2 linked regions of the Homo sapiens genome follow. The protein of the gene in region 1 purifies or fractionates together with the protein of each later gene. This does not show direct contact. Each region holds a gene or a part of one and is shown on either strand. Other genes may lie near its edges.

Evidence for each region. The genes of interacting proteins can lie anywhere in the genome.
Region 2: the proteins of CCT2 (region 1) and ACTL6A purify together in Homo sapiens (affinity purification with mass spectrometry; 4 studies listed by BioGRID and IntAct, with this or other methods). This does not show direct contact.

What each region holds. Positions count from the first base shown.
Region 1 is NC_000012.12:69,588,454-69,595,480, forward strand, and holds part of CCT2 (T-complex protein 1 subunit beta), read left to right. Parts: intron 1-1,031; coding exon 1,032-1,234; intron 1,235-3,605; coding exon 3,606-3,706; intron 3,707-4,522; coding exon 4,523-4,650; intron 4,651-5,056; coding exon 5,057-5,160; intron 5,161-7,027. UniProt on the Homo sapiens protein: Component of the chaperonin-containing T-complex (TRiC), a molecular chaperone complex that assists the folding of actin, tubulin and other proteins upon ATP hydrolysis.
Region 2 is NC_000003.12:179,579,919-179,586,945, forward strand, and holds part of ACTL6A (actin-like protein 6A), read left to right. Parts: intron 1-721; coding exon 722-783; intron 784-975; coding exon 976-1,090; intron 1,091-1,221; coding exon 1,222-1,302; intron 1,303-3,434; coding exon 3,435-3,530; intron 3,531-6,627; coding exon 6,628-6,714; intron 6,715-7,027.

The sequences.
Region 1 (7,027 bases):
GTATATATCATCAAAATATACAAATAAAGCAAATAGTATAATACTGTATAGAGAATTTGTTAGCCTCTTTTTAACCTAGTTAAATATTAAGCACATTTTTGGATGTCAATTTTCTGTGCAGTATTTTAATAGAGTTACACATTTGAATATTTGGCTAGAATGACTGTATTAACCTATCTGTAGGGGGAGATTTGTGTATTTGATGATTTTTAGCATTATAAAATAACTTTGTGACGTTGCGACATAGCCCAAAGGTTTCTAGAAGTGTAATTGTTGGGTCCAAAGGTAAGTGTGTGTGTTTTAAGGCACCCCCAAACCTGGGCTGCACAGCAGGTGAGCAGCAGGTGGAAAAATTGTCTTCCCATGAAACCAGTCCCTGGTGCCAAAAAGGTCCGGGACCACTGTTTTAAGGCACTTCTATTTATTTGCCCATTCACAACTGTATAATAATACTTGTTTTTCACGTCCTTTTATTTATTTATTTATTTTGAGACGGAGTCTCGCTCTTAGAGTTGCCCAGAATGGAGTGCAGTGGCACGACTTCGGCTGACTGCAACCTCTGCCTCCCGGGTTCAAGCGATTCTCTTGCCTCAGCCTCCCAAGTAGCAGGGACTACAGGCATGTGCCATCATAGCCAGCTAATTTTGTATTTTTAGTGTAGATGGGGTTTCACCATGTTGCTCAGGCTGGTCTTGAACTGACCTCAAGTGATCCATCCTCCTCAGTCTCCCAAAGTGCTAGGATTACAGGCGTGAGCCACTGTGCCCGGCCATTTCTCACATTCTTGCCAACATTAGACTTTTGCATGCTTGTGTGGCCCCCACCCCTCTTTTTTTTTTGGCATTTTGCCAGTTTGGTGGGGAAAATAACATCTTTAATTTGTGTTTCTTGATTACTGCTGAGGTTTAATTCTTTTCATATAGCTTACAGACTTGATCAGTTAGGGTAAAATTATCTATTGACATGAATATCTAGATAAATTTTGAAAAGTAAAGTAGGGTTAATATGTATATTTGGTTGGTTTTATTTAGTTCCGATGAAGTTAAATTCCGTCAAGATTTAATGAATATTGCGGGCACAACATTATCCTCAAAACTTCTTACTCATCACAAAGACCACTTTACAAAGTTAGCTGTAGAAGCAGTTCTCAGACTGAAAGGCTCTGGCAACCTGGAGGCAATTCATATTATCAAGAAGCTAGGAGGAAGTTTGGCAGATTCCTATTTAGATGAAGGTATGTATGAATGTCAGATACAAGAAGCTTTGATTAGATGCTGAGGGCTGAATACTGAGTGAATTCTGTTTTGAGACCAGTGACCCTTTACAAAGCCAGTGAACTTGAATTTAAGGACATATCATATGTGCAACCATTTTTGTCATTTTATTGACAGTGTACTCCTCTTCCCGCGCTATTCCAGCATTGTTGATGATCTCTAGAGTTTACTTAACTACCATGAAGTTATTTGCAGTCTCTGATAAAGAGGAAATGTTTTCTTTTACTAGAAATCATCTATTCTCAAATGGTACTTTTACCAGGATTATATGTATTCTCCAGGAAGGGTCTGGGTCAGTCAAATCATTGTGTTAGCTGGTTGTTGAGGATGTACAGTTGACCATTGAACAACATGGGTTTGAATTATGTAGGTTCACAATGCAGGTTTTTTCAATAAATATAGTCAGCCCTTTGTGTCCGTGGTTTGCACATGTGCAACCGAACGTGGATGGAAAATGCAGTATTTGCAGGATTTGAAACCCATGTATATAGTGGGCCAGCTTTTCAAATCTGCTGGTTCCAGTCAGCCTGGAACTTAAGTATGTGGGGATTTTGGTGTATGTGGGCGTCTTGGAACCAGTCCCCTTCGTATACTGGGGGATGACTAGTTTTTTTTAGAAAAGAATTAAAAAAAATTTCTTTAACAAATAATTATGTATGTTTATAGGGCAAGAGGATCTAGTTCTTAAAGAGTGATAAATGAGACATAATAAGTACTGCTTTCTTAGTAGTACATTTTTGTTTAGAGTGAAGTTTTCCAGATCATCTTCACATTATATTTACTTCACAAAATGGCCTGTCAAAAAGTATAGGCATTCTTATATAGAGAAGGAAAAAAAAAGAATTAGATGGTGCTTTACAACTTCTGTTTTTACCAGTGGTTTGGAGTCCTGGTTTTGTTCTGTGTCATAGGTCTTGATTTATTTTAAGAGAGAGTCATAATTCTGAAAATACTCTTGATTAAGTTTATATACAAGAGCTGTGTAGCATTTCTTTTTTTTTTTTTTTGAGACGGAGTCTGGCTGTGTCACCCAGGCTGGAGTGCAGCAGTATGATCTCGCCTCACTGCAACCACTGCCTCCTGAGTTAAGGCGATTCTCCTGCCTCAGCCTCCTGAGTAGGTGGGATTACAGGCGTGTGCCACCATGCCTGGCTAACTTTTTTGTATTTTTAGTAGAGACGGGGTATCGCCATGTTGACCAGGCTGGTCTCGAACTCCTGACCTAAGGGGATCCACCTGCCTCAGCCTCCCAAAGTACTGGGATTACAGGCGTGAGCCACCATGCCTGGCCGCTGCGTAGCATTTCTGATAGGGGCTGGTGGTAGGGAAGGAGCATTAAAACAAGAATATTAGTAGCACAAGCAGCACCATTCTTGAATGTCTGCTCTGTACTAGGAATTGTAATAGGAACTTTAGTCATTTAGTCATCATGACCTGGTGAGTGAGGATTAGGTTCACTTGAATAGAGTAGAAAACCCAAGATAATGGTGGCTTCATAATGGAAAAGTTTCTAATGTAACCAAAAAAAGGCCTAGAAAGGTAGGTGGTACTGGGTTTGTATGATGGTTCCAAAGCAGCAGGACTAGGCTGGTAACTAGCACCTCTGCTACTGGTTACATTCCTGTTTTACAAATTAGCATTTCTGGTTGGATAATTTGTCGAAGGTTATATAGCCAGCAGCAGGGGCATGATCAGGGTCAGATTTATCTGACTCCACGGTGTCCATGGTTTTTCCATTTTTACCACCAGCCTCAATACCTGAATCTTCAATTTTTCTCTTGTGGTGGTGATTTTAAGCTAATAAAAATATAGGACTTAACCTATTGTCTTTATATTGCAACCCATACAGATGTGGGTGTAGCGTATATCTGAAACAAAAGTTTCAAAATACTGTTTAATTTTATTGTCTGTACTGTGCTCTTATATTTTCTGTTTCATATTTTTTAAGTAACCCATTAAATTGATTTTGTAATAACTCTTCTAGTGGGATGCTTTATACCAGAAGTGTCCAAGGAAGAGAATACAGTCATGGGTTCCTAGTTTCTGTTTCTGGTTGGGTCGGTAAAGCCCCTTCCTCCTCCCTCTTTTCTGCTTATCACTAGAGACAGAAACTAAAATCCATGGCTTTCAGGCGCTAAAAGCCTAAAAGCAAAACAACAACAGAATAAGGCAGGTTGGACAAGCTTGCTTTTATGCCTTCTAAGAGCTTGGTAAATTGGACTTAAATAGCTTCTTTGAAACAGTGATATGATAAAGCAGACAGCTTTTTATAAGATTTACTAAGGCTGCTTTGAAGTATTAAATATGATACTGTTCTTATATTTATTGTAGGCTTCCTGTTGGATAAAAAAATTGGAGTAAATCAACCAAAACGAATTGAAAATGCTAAAATTCTTATTGCAAATACTGGTATGGATACAGACAAAATAAAGGTATGTAACTCTACTTTTTAAAAATTAAAATTACTGCCCAGGCAGAGTGGCTCATGCCTGTAATCCTAGCAATTTGGGAGGCCAAGGTGGTGGATCATCTGAGATCAGAAGTTTGAGACCAGCCTGACCAACATGGAGAAACCCTGTCTCTACTAAAAAAAAAAAAATACAAAATTAGCTGGGCATGGTGGCGCATGCCTGTAATCCCAGCTATTCGGGAGGCTGAGGCAGGAGAATCACTTGAACCCAGGAGGCGGAGGTTGCACTGAGCCGAGATTGTGCTACTGCACTCGAGCCTGGGCAACAAGAGTGAAACTCCGTCTCAAAAGTCTCAAAAAAAAAAAAATTGCTGGATTCTATAAACTCAGGAATCAATTGCACTAAAAAGCTTGGAATAGGTATGAATCTATTGTGTATATACACATATATATACGTTGGTAAAAATGTTGAAATATGCTATGGGACTCTTTAAAAAGAGTAATGAGGCCTGGCGTGGTGGTTCACGCCTGTAATCCCAGTACTTTGGGAGGCCAGGCGGGCGGATCACAAGGTCAGGAGTTCAAGGCCAGACTGACCAATGTGAGATGGTGAAACCCTGTCTTTACTAAAAATACAAAAATTAGCTGGGTGTGGTGGCGCACACCTGTAATCCCAGCTGCTTGGAAGGCTGAGGCAGGAGAATCACTTGAACCCAGCGGGTGGAGGTTGCAGTGAGCCGAGATTGCCCCACTGCACTCCAGCCTGGGCAACAGAGCGAGACTCAATCTCAAAAAAAATAATGAAACTGATGCTCTCTTTATGCTTCGTTTGTCTTAGATATTTGGTTCCCGGGTAAGAGTTGACTCTACAGCAAAGGTTGCAGAAATAGAACATGCGGAAAAGGAAAAAATGAAGGAGAAAGTTGAACGTATTCTTAAGCATGGAATAAATTGCTTTATTAACAGGTCTGTGTTTGCTTTTAAGAAAGGATTTTTTTCCATGAAAGTTTATGGAATACTTCATATTTACTTATATTGAATTAGATTTTTTACCTAGGAACTGTCTTAGATAACTTCACTTAAATTATGGATTTTTGTAATCAGTAAATTGTGATTTATGCACACTTACAGTGACCAGAATTACGGGATTGATTTATACAGTTACTATAATAAAGAACACTTCTTTTCAATACTAGTAATGGATGCATTAGTACTATAGTTGATAAACTCTAATTATATAGGTAAGAAATGCAATCTTGTTCTAATTTGCATTTCTTTTACTTGTGGTAAAAATGTTTACATGTTTTTTAGTCTAATGTAGTTTATCTTGTAACAGTTGTGAGCATAATGTTTTCATGTATTTTATTTACAGGCAATTAATTTATAATTATCCTGAACAGCTCTTTGGTGCTGCTGGTGTCATGGCTATTGAGCATGCAGATTTTGCAGGTGTGGAACGCCTAGCTCTTGTCACAGGTATGGAAAAAAGGTATTGTTTTCTAACAAACACAATAGTCACTCTTGAATTTGTTATTTGTTACTATATGCAACTACCTTTAAGGAGTTTAGAATTTCAGCAGTTATTCTGAAATCTATTCTCTTGGATACCTTTAATTTAGATACATAGATACATTACATTTACGATACCAAGTTATATACCACATTTGCCGTAGGTATAGATTTCTTTCATTGTGTCACTGTTTTAAAGGTAGATTTTTGGCCAGGTGCAGTGGCTTGTGCCTGTAATCCCAGCACTTTGGGAGGCCGAGGCAGCCAGATCGCTTGAGCTCAGGAGTTTCAGACCAACTTTGGCAACATTGCGAACCCACATCCCTACAAAAAAAAAAAATTGGCCAGGTGTGGTGGCAAGCGCCTGTGATCCTAGCCACTTGGGGGGAGGCTGAGGGAAGAGAATCGCTTGAGCCTGGGAGGCAGAGGTTGCAGTCAGCGGAGATCGTGCCACTGCGCTCCAGCCTTGGCGACACAGTGAGACCCTGTCTCAAAAAAAAAAAAAGATATGTATATTTTTTTCTCACAAACCTGTAAGACCGTTGTTAAAATCTGAACAAACTAGAGCTTTAAAAAGTCTTAAGTCTACTTACATTTATCTAGTTCGTACATTTGTTTTTATTGCTTAGTAAGTAGTTGAATGCTTTGTGTCCTTTGTAGTAGTACAGTTACAATAGTAACCTTTATTGAACATTTACTGTGTGCTGGAGAGTGGGTCAAGTACTGAAACATTGCTTTTGTTAATTTTAAAAAATTTCTGAAAGTAATAAACGTTAGCATACGTGAAACAATCAACATTGTATAATGAAAATTAGTATACCTCAATACCCTTTAATAGAAGTATGAGTGATATAATTCCAGTTGTGTCAAATAGAAATTGTGTTTATAAATCAGACATGTCTGTCTACATCACAATGACATGAGTTCAGGCTGGTTGCGGTGGCTCATGCTTGTAATCCCAGTGCTTTGAGAGGCCAAGGCAGGAAGATTGCTTGAAGCCAGGAGTTCAAGACCAGCCTGGGCAATATAGTAAGACTGTCTCTACAAAAAATTAGCTGGGCGTGGTGGCACATGCCTGTAGTCCTAGCTACTTGGGAGGTTGAGGCAGGAGATCTCTTCAGCCCAGGAGTCCAAGGCTACAGTGAGCTGTGATCACGTCACTGCAGTCCATCCTAAGTGACAGAGCAAGACCCTGTCTTTAAAAAAAAAAAAAAAAATGCAGCTTGTTTGCTTTTTATTGTGGTAATGGTTTAAAAATTATTGTTTATTAAATTTTTACAGATTTAGGGATATAAGTATAGTTTTGTTAATGGTTTTCATAGTACACTCTAAGCCCTGGAAAATAAGTTTAACACTTTTCTAGATTTTAGGTCCTTGAAAATGAATGAATAGGTTGGAAAGTTGGTTTGGGAATGAGAATTAAGGAGACCTGGGTTATGAGTTGTGAAGTCAGTAGGGCTGTCACACTGTTTGGAACTGCCATGAATATTAGAAGAAATTATAGTGTACTAACCTTTGGAGAGTGGACTTGGTCTCATCCCAGAATGATCTCTTAAGACGTTTTTTTTAATCATTTGAGAAGCATAGTCGTCTTCTAACCAAGAGACATTTTCCTTTAATTACTTGAAGTGGGTTTACTTGCTTTAAAGTTACTTAGGAGCCATTGCGTACTTGATGCTTTAAGGTGACAAATAAACACAATTTAAGATGCTCATGTTTATGTAATTCATTCTTTAGTTCCACAAAATAAAGATGTAAGAGGCCGGGTGTGGTGGCTCACGCCTTTAATCCCAGCACTTTAGGAAGGCCTAAGTGGGCAGATCACAAGGTCTGG
Region 2 (7,027 bases), on another chromosome or scaffold:
TGCATGCCACCATGCCTGGCTAATTTTTTATTTTTATAGAGACAGTGTCTCGCTATGTTGCCCAGGCTGGTCTTGAACTCCTGGCCTCAAGCGATCCTCCTGTCTCGGCCTCTTAAAGTGCTGAGATTACAGGTATGAGCCACTGCATCCAGCTCTGACAGTTTTTGCACCTAAAGATAAAGATTTTGTCTGTGTGCACATGTAATATACGAGGAAAAATTAGGATGATTAGTCATTTTTCCTAGATATTAGACAAGATTTTTCTAGAGGTCGTGTTAGTTCACAACATTTTATTAAACTGTTTTATACTATGTACAGTCATTAAAAGTTGCATAAAATGTGATGTACATGCACATGTGTATATGTAGGTAATGAAATCTTGCTTCTAATCTAGCTTATTTTTAAGGAGAAAGTGGTGTTCTGAAATTGGTTTTGTTATGCAGAACTGTGGTGCAGGGGTTCCTGCACCTGCAGTTATTTATCTCTCATTTCATAACTGTTGTAACTTAAATGTGTGTAATTAACTTCTAATGCAAATGATTAGAATTAGGTTTCTTGATACTCAGAATCCTTGTTAGGTACATTTATACTCTTGAAATGATTTACCCATCTAGAAACATGGTCCAATTTCATTCAGAAAAGTATTTAAAATATGTTATAAAAGTATAGATTACAAAGATAAATCTCAACCTTGTTTGTTACTTTTTTCTTTTACTCACAGTGTGTTATCCAGGATTTTCAAGCTTCGGTACTTCAAGTGTCAGATTCAACTTATGATGAACAGTATGTTTTCTTATTAAAATGTATACTTTATAAATGAGGAAAGGATTTGTTTAAAAAATACTTAATTGAATAATGTTTAAAATATTCTCACTCCCTTTTTTTTTTTTACAAGTTTATAATTCCCTAGTAGTTTATAATTTTGAAGAGAATTATTTTTTGTCTTTTGTGTAATACGGTTTAATATGTTTTCAGAGTGGCTGCACAGATGCCAACTGTTCATTATGAATTCCCCAATGGCTACAATTGTGATTTTGGTGCAGAGCGGCTAAAGATTCCAGAAGGATTATTTGACCCTTCCAATGTAAAGGTATAAAAGCTTATTTCATAATTAGCCTGGCTTTTCCTATATAGGTAAAGAGCTTTTGTGGCTAAAATGTTTTGGATATGCTTTACTGTATGAAGAGCTTCCATGTGACTACTTGTTTTCTTTTGTTGTAGGGGTTATCAGGAAACACAATGTTAGGAGTCAGTCATGTTGTCACCACAAGTGTTGGGATGTGTGATATTGACATCAGACCAGTAAGTGCCAGTCTCCTGTTACGGTTTAAAGGTATCTTTTAGGGGACTGAAATGTCCCCAAATCATTGTTAGGTTGACAGTGATCTAATGGTTGTCAGTGTCATTGACTTTGAGGTTCATTTTATAACAGTATATGTAAAAAGATGAAGTACTAGAAAAGGAAAAATGTGAAACTCTAGAGCTATGGTGTCCAGTTTTGTAGCTACCCGCCACATGTGGCAATTTAAATTTAAAATAGATAAAAACATAAAACTCAATTCTTCAGTTGTAGTAGCCTCATTATAAATGTGGCTAGTGGCTGCATCAGACAGCGCAGATATAGAACATTTGCATCATCACAGAAAGTTATTGTAGACTGCGCTAGAGATTTCCTGAAATGTGGCAAACCAAAATATGTATTGTTGGTGATTTTCTTACAGATAGCACAACTTCTACTTTTATTTTTCAGGAAGGCGTGGTTTAAATTATATGAGTAACTTTTACATGAAGTTTATTTTAAATGCTCTTCATATTTTTTGTGCTTTGTCAGGTTTTAAATACTAACTCCATATTATATACTTCACTCATTATCAGTGATAGGTTCTTGGAGACTGCAACTTTAACTGAAACGATGTACAGTAGGTCCTTGAAGGACATTGTTTCAGGAAAAAAATTGGTTTTGTTACATGACATTTTGCTGAAAGTCAGTTTCCAAGGTCATATTGATGACATTAAATGAGGACTTACTTTATCTTATTTAAACCCAATTCAGCTTATCACCCACATACTGCCTAGATTTTGAGTAAATTAATTTGCTTAAAGCATAGTGCTAATAACTACTATGTTATTCAAAAAAGGCTTTGAGTGGCTATGAAAATCATACTTTATTTTACCTTTATTTCACCTGGTAACCTAGTAGGCATGTGATGTTTCTAGGACAATAGTAGTATAAGTTTGGGATTTTTTTAGCGCAAATACAATTCCACCTTTCGGGGAAGGTAATTGAATTGAAGTATATTTATTGCAACAGTGATAACTGTTTTTAGTGAAGTTTCTCCTTTTAACTAATGAGATACTTTTGCATTCCATTTTCTACTTCAAAATTTAGATGATTTAGACATTTGAAGTATGTTTTAAAAATAGGAACTTACCCACTAAAACAGTTTGACATTTAACTTTCTGATGCATACATGCAAATTCAAAGTAAATACACTGCTTATAAGTAGTAATTTATTTTTATTTGGGAAGGGCTTAGCATATGTGTTTTGGAAAAGCTCCCATGTGCTTCTGATGCTTACCTCTGCAAAAGAGAAAAGTAGCAATAATTTTGGCGAGGAATATGTTCAGAGTTTATCATTGTCTGTCATAATCATAAAATAATTGTCTAATTTTGAATATCCTAACTTACAGATAAGCATTCTTTTTCAAAATATTTGTAATTTTAATTTTTGGCTGGTGGTTGCAATTAATATTTCCAGATGAGCATTCTTTGAATATCCTAACTTACAGATAAGCATTCTTTTTCAAAATATTTGTAATTTTAATTTTTGGCTGGTGGTTGCTATTAATATTTCCAGATGAGCATTCTAAGATAAAGTCATTATAAAATGTACTTCTAATTAAATATTGGCAGCTATCTGCCAAAAAAAAATTATGATTTTTAGAATGATTCCTTTAAGTTAGTGGTTCTTAAAACTTTGTACACATTAAAATAATCTTGGGAGTTAAAAACCATGCCTGCCAGGTACAGTGGCATGTAGTCCCAGCTACTTGGGAGCCTGAGGCAGGATTGTTTGAACCCAGGAGTTTGAGGCTGTGGTACGCTATGCCTGTGCCCGTGAATAGCCACTGCATTCCAATGTAGGCAATATAACGAGACCCCGTCTCTAAAAGTAACCTTGCCTGGATCCCATCCCCAGACATTTTTATTTAATTGCCCCTAGGAATTTGTGTTTTAAAAGCTCCTTAGATGAGTTGAATGTACAGCCAGGATGGAGAATTGATGGATTAAGCTATTAGTTCTATATAATAGTAAAACATTTCCAAAAAACGAAAGGGAAATTGTAGTAGAGCACATGGTTATATTTGTAGTTGTATTTAAAACTTTTGGAAACATATGGAACTAATTGATTTTTCTTGTATTTTTATCCTAGGGTCTCTATGGCAGTGTAATAGTGGCAGGAGGAAACACACTAATACAGAGTTTTACTGACAGGTTGAATAGAGAGCTGTCTCAGAAAACTCCTCCAGTAAGTTCTGTTTGTTCTTTAATGGTATTCTTCAGTCATATATTTCCTCACTGATGGTGTAATTTTGTAGATAAGCGTCCATTTTTCAATAGATACATGATATTTTGTGTGTGCCTGGTATAGTATCACTAAAGTTAATATCCTTTAATCGTTTTCCTAGTTGACATCTATTAGTTTCTCTTAAATTATTTGAATCTCATTTATTAATATTTAAATATGTATAGTCTGCTAGGCACTAGTCCCTGCACACCAAGGGCTCAGTCTACTAGGATGGTTAGACATGCAGAAAATGATGACTGTAACATGCTCAACAATTCAGTATGTCATGAACGAGGTGCTGTTGGGAACACCAAGAAGCCACTACTTAACTCTCTAGGAGTATCAGAGGATAGCCTCCTGAAGAAGCTATAGTTTGAATGAATAGTTCAACTCATTGCTAATTTATGAAAGGATATCTAGATGGAGGGAATAAAACCATTTACAAAAATACTAAGAGAAGACAGGTATGTTCCAGTAATTCAAAGTAGTTGGCTTCTAGTCTTTACGTAAGTGGGGAAAGCAATATGGCTAGAAAGATGGATTAGTTTCCTAGAGCTGCCGTAACAAAGTACATGTTAGTGGCTTCAAACAACAGAAATTTGTTGTCTTATAGTTCTTGAGGCTAGAAGCCTCAAGGTGTCAGTGGAGCTATGCTGAATCTCTAGGGGAAAATACCTCCTTCTTCACAGGATAAAATCTAGCAGTGGACTGATGAGCTCATGTTTGTTTTAAAAAGATCAGTGGGTATATTATAATAACTTTTAAAAGAATAGAAAAACTCGGTTTGAGAAGGTAATTTATATAGTACTTCGGTAACAGAATGACAGTTATAATCTTTTAACTTTAAAATTTCTATCAGCTGGGCGTGGTGGCTCACGCCTATAATCCCAGCACTTTGGGAGGCCGAGGCAGATGGATTATGAGGTCAGGGAGACCAGCCTGGCCAACATGGTGAAACCCCATCTCTACTAAGAATACAAAAATTAGCTGGGCCTGGTGGCGGGAGCCTCTTAATTCCAGCTACTCGGGAGGCTGAGGCAGGAGAATTGCTTGAACCCGGGAGGTGGAGGTTGCAGTGAACTGAGATCACACCACTGCATTCCAACAGAGCAAGACTCCATCTCAAAAAAAAAAAAAAATAACAAAAATTAGCCGGACACGGTGGCACGTGCCTGTAATCCCAGCTACTTGGGAGGCTGAGACAGCAGAATCGCTTGAACCCAGGAGGCGGAGGTTGCAGTAAGCCGAGATCATGCCACTGCATTCCAGTCTGGGTGACAAAGCAAGACTCTGGCTCAGGAAAAAAAAACAACAACAACAAAACTTCAAGTGCTTTTTTTGTAAGGTGTTCTGCACTGAAGATTACATTTAAAAAACCTTATTAGTGGTTACATATGCCCTAACAATATCTATAAATCTGTATATTTAATAGTCTTTTAGCTTCCCATATAAAATAATGTTTTACGTGTGCCACATTTCTATTATTAAAAGTGATATCTAAATATATAGGCACACAGTTGACATCTGCCTTGTATTTTCTAAATTCTTGGAGATCTAGAGCATACCTGAATTATAATACTAATCATTAGATTGATTGATTGATTGGAGATTTATTTATTTATTTATTTACTTGAGATGGAGTCTTGCTCTTGTCCCCTAGGCTGGAGTGCAGTGGCACGATATCAGCTCACTGTAACCTCCGCCTCCTGGGTTCAAGTGATTCTCCTACCTCAGCTTCCCAAGTAGCTGGGATTACAGGCATGTTCCACCACACCCGGCTAATTTTTTATTTTTAGTAGAGATGCAGTTTCTCCGTGCTGGTCAGGCTGATCTCAAACTCCCGACCTCAGGTGATCCACCCGCCTCGGCCTCCCAAAGTGCTGGGATTATAGGCGTGAGCCACTGCACCGGTCTATAATACTAATGATTAGATTTCATAGAAAGTCCCTGAATAATGAATACAGATAAGCATGGCCCAAGCTGTGGTCAAGGCCAGTTAGAAACTATCCTTGTCCTTTAGGAGGTGATAACAATCTCTGAAAGAACAGGAAAAAAATTCTATTTAATAGTTACCAATCTTTCTTACCTACAAAAACCCATGTTTACCCTATCCCCAGTACCTTCTACCCACCCATATCCCATACTCTACCCACCCTTGCTGCACACATACTTATTTCACTTTGAAAAGCCCCAAAAATATGTTCATTTATAGAATAATAGGAAGATGTCAACAACTTGAGAACTGTCCCCAGAGGCAGATTCCTTGGTAAGAGAAAGAAAAAAACCTCTTCATATAGGAAGTGAGATATAGGGGATAGTACTGTGCAATAAAATTGTGTTATCAAGAGAAAATGAGAGTCAGAACAGAAGCACTAATTTGGAAGGAAATAGTATGAATAAAAAACTAACCTGATATCTGATGGTTGTGTTTTTATTTAGAAGGGTTGGGGTGAACTAAGGAGGGATTAGGATAGCATGAAAGCCTAGAAAGGAAGCAGTTAGAAGGTTGGGGAGGACTACAGAAAGGGAGACAGATTGGGATGATAATTAGGTTGGTGTTGGATGAAATGAAATAATAAAGACTTAGCACAGCACCAGATTTATAGTGTTAGGTGTGGATTTGCTATTTTAGGATAGAAATTGTGAATGCTATACTTCAGTATGCAGCTTTTTAAAGTTTGTATGTTTTCTCATCATATAATCGCATGTTAAAAGCCATAATCAAAGTACTTTTAAAAGTCTGTACATTAGTCTAACCTATGCTTGTTATCTTGGCTATTTCAAAATTACCGTATTTTAATCAGTGTTTGAACCACAGGGAGCCATTATGAAGTCTGTCAAAATTGAATTTCCTGGCTGGGTGCAAGTGGCTCATGCATGTAATCCCAGCACTTTGGGAGGCTGAGATGGGCCGATTGCTTGAGTGCAAATGTGAAGACCAGCCTGGACAATATGGCGAGGAAGACCCTGTCTCTATTTGAAAAAAAAAAAAAAAAAAAGAATTTTCTAAGTTGAGTCACAAGATTTGATTGTACTAATGCATATTCTTCTATTTCAGAGTATGCGGTTGAAATTGATTGCAAATAATACAACAGTGGAACGGAGGTTTAGCTCATGGATTGGCGGCTCCATTCTAGCCTCTTTGGTTAGTAGATGAGCTACTTTGCAAAAATATTCTTACTGAATTATACTAAATTTAGTAAAAATACAAAAAATAATTCCAGTGCTTCATTTGTCTGTGCATTTTATAACTGTCAAATGAGTGGAAGACCTAATGGAATAACCAGTTTTATGTGTTCTGATGTAACAAAATGCCTCTGCCTAATTAGTGGACATTTGTCAGCCTAATTTCAATGTCCCCTCTCAAACAGAGGTGGAAATATGTTAATGTATGCATGCCTTTTCTAATAATACCCCCATTGGCACTGGTCAGGGCTTGTCTGGAGTGCATTTAAAAT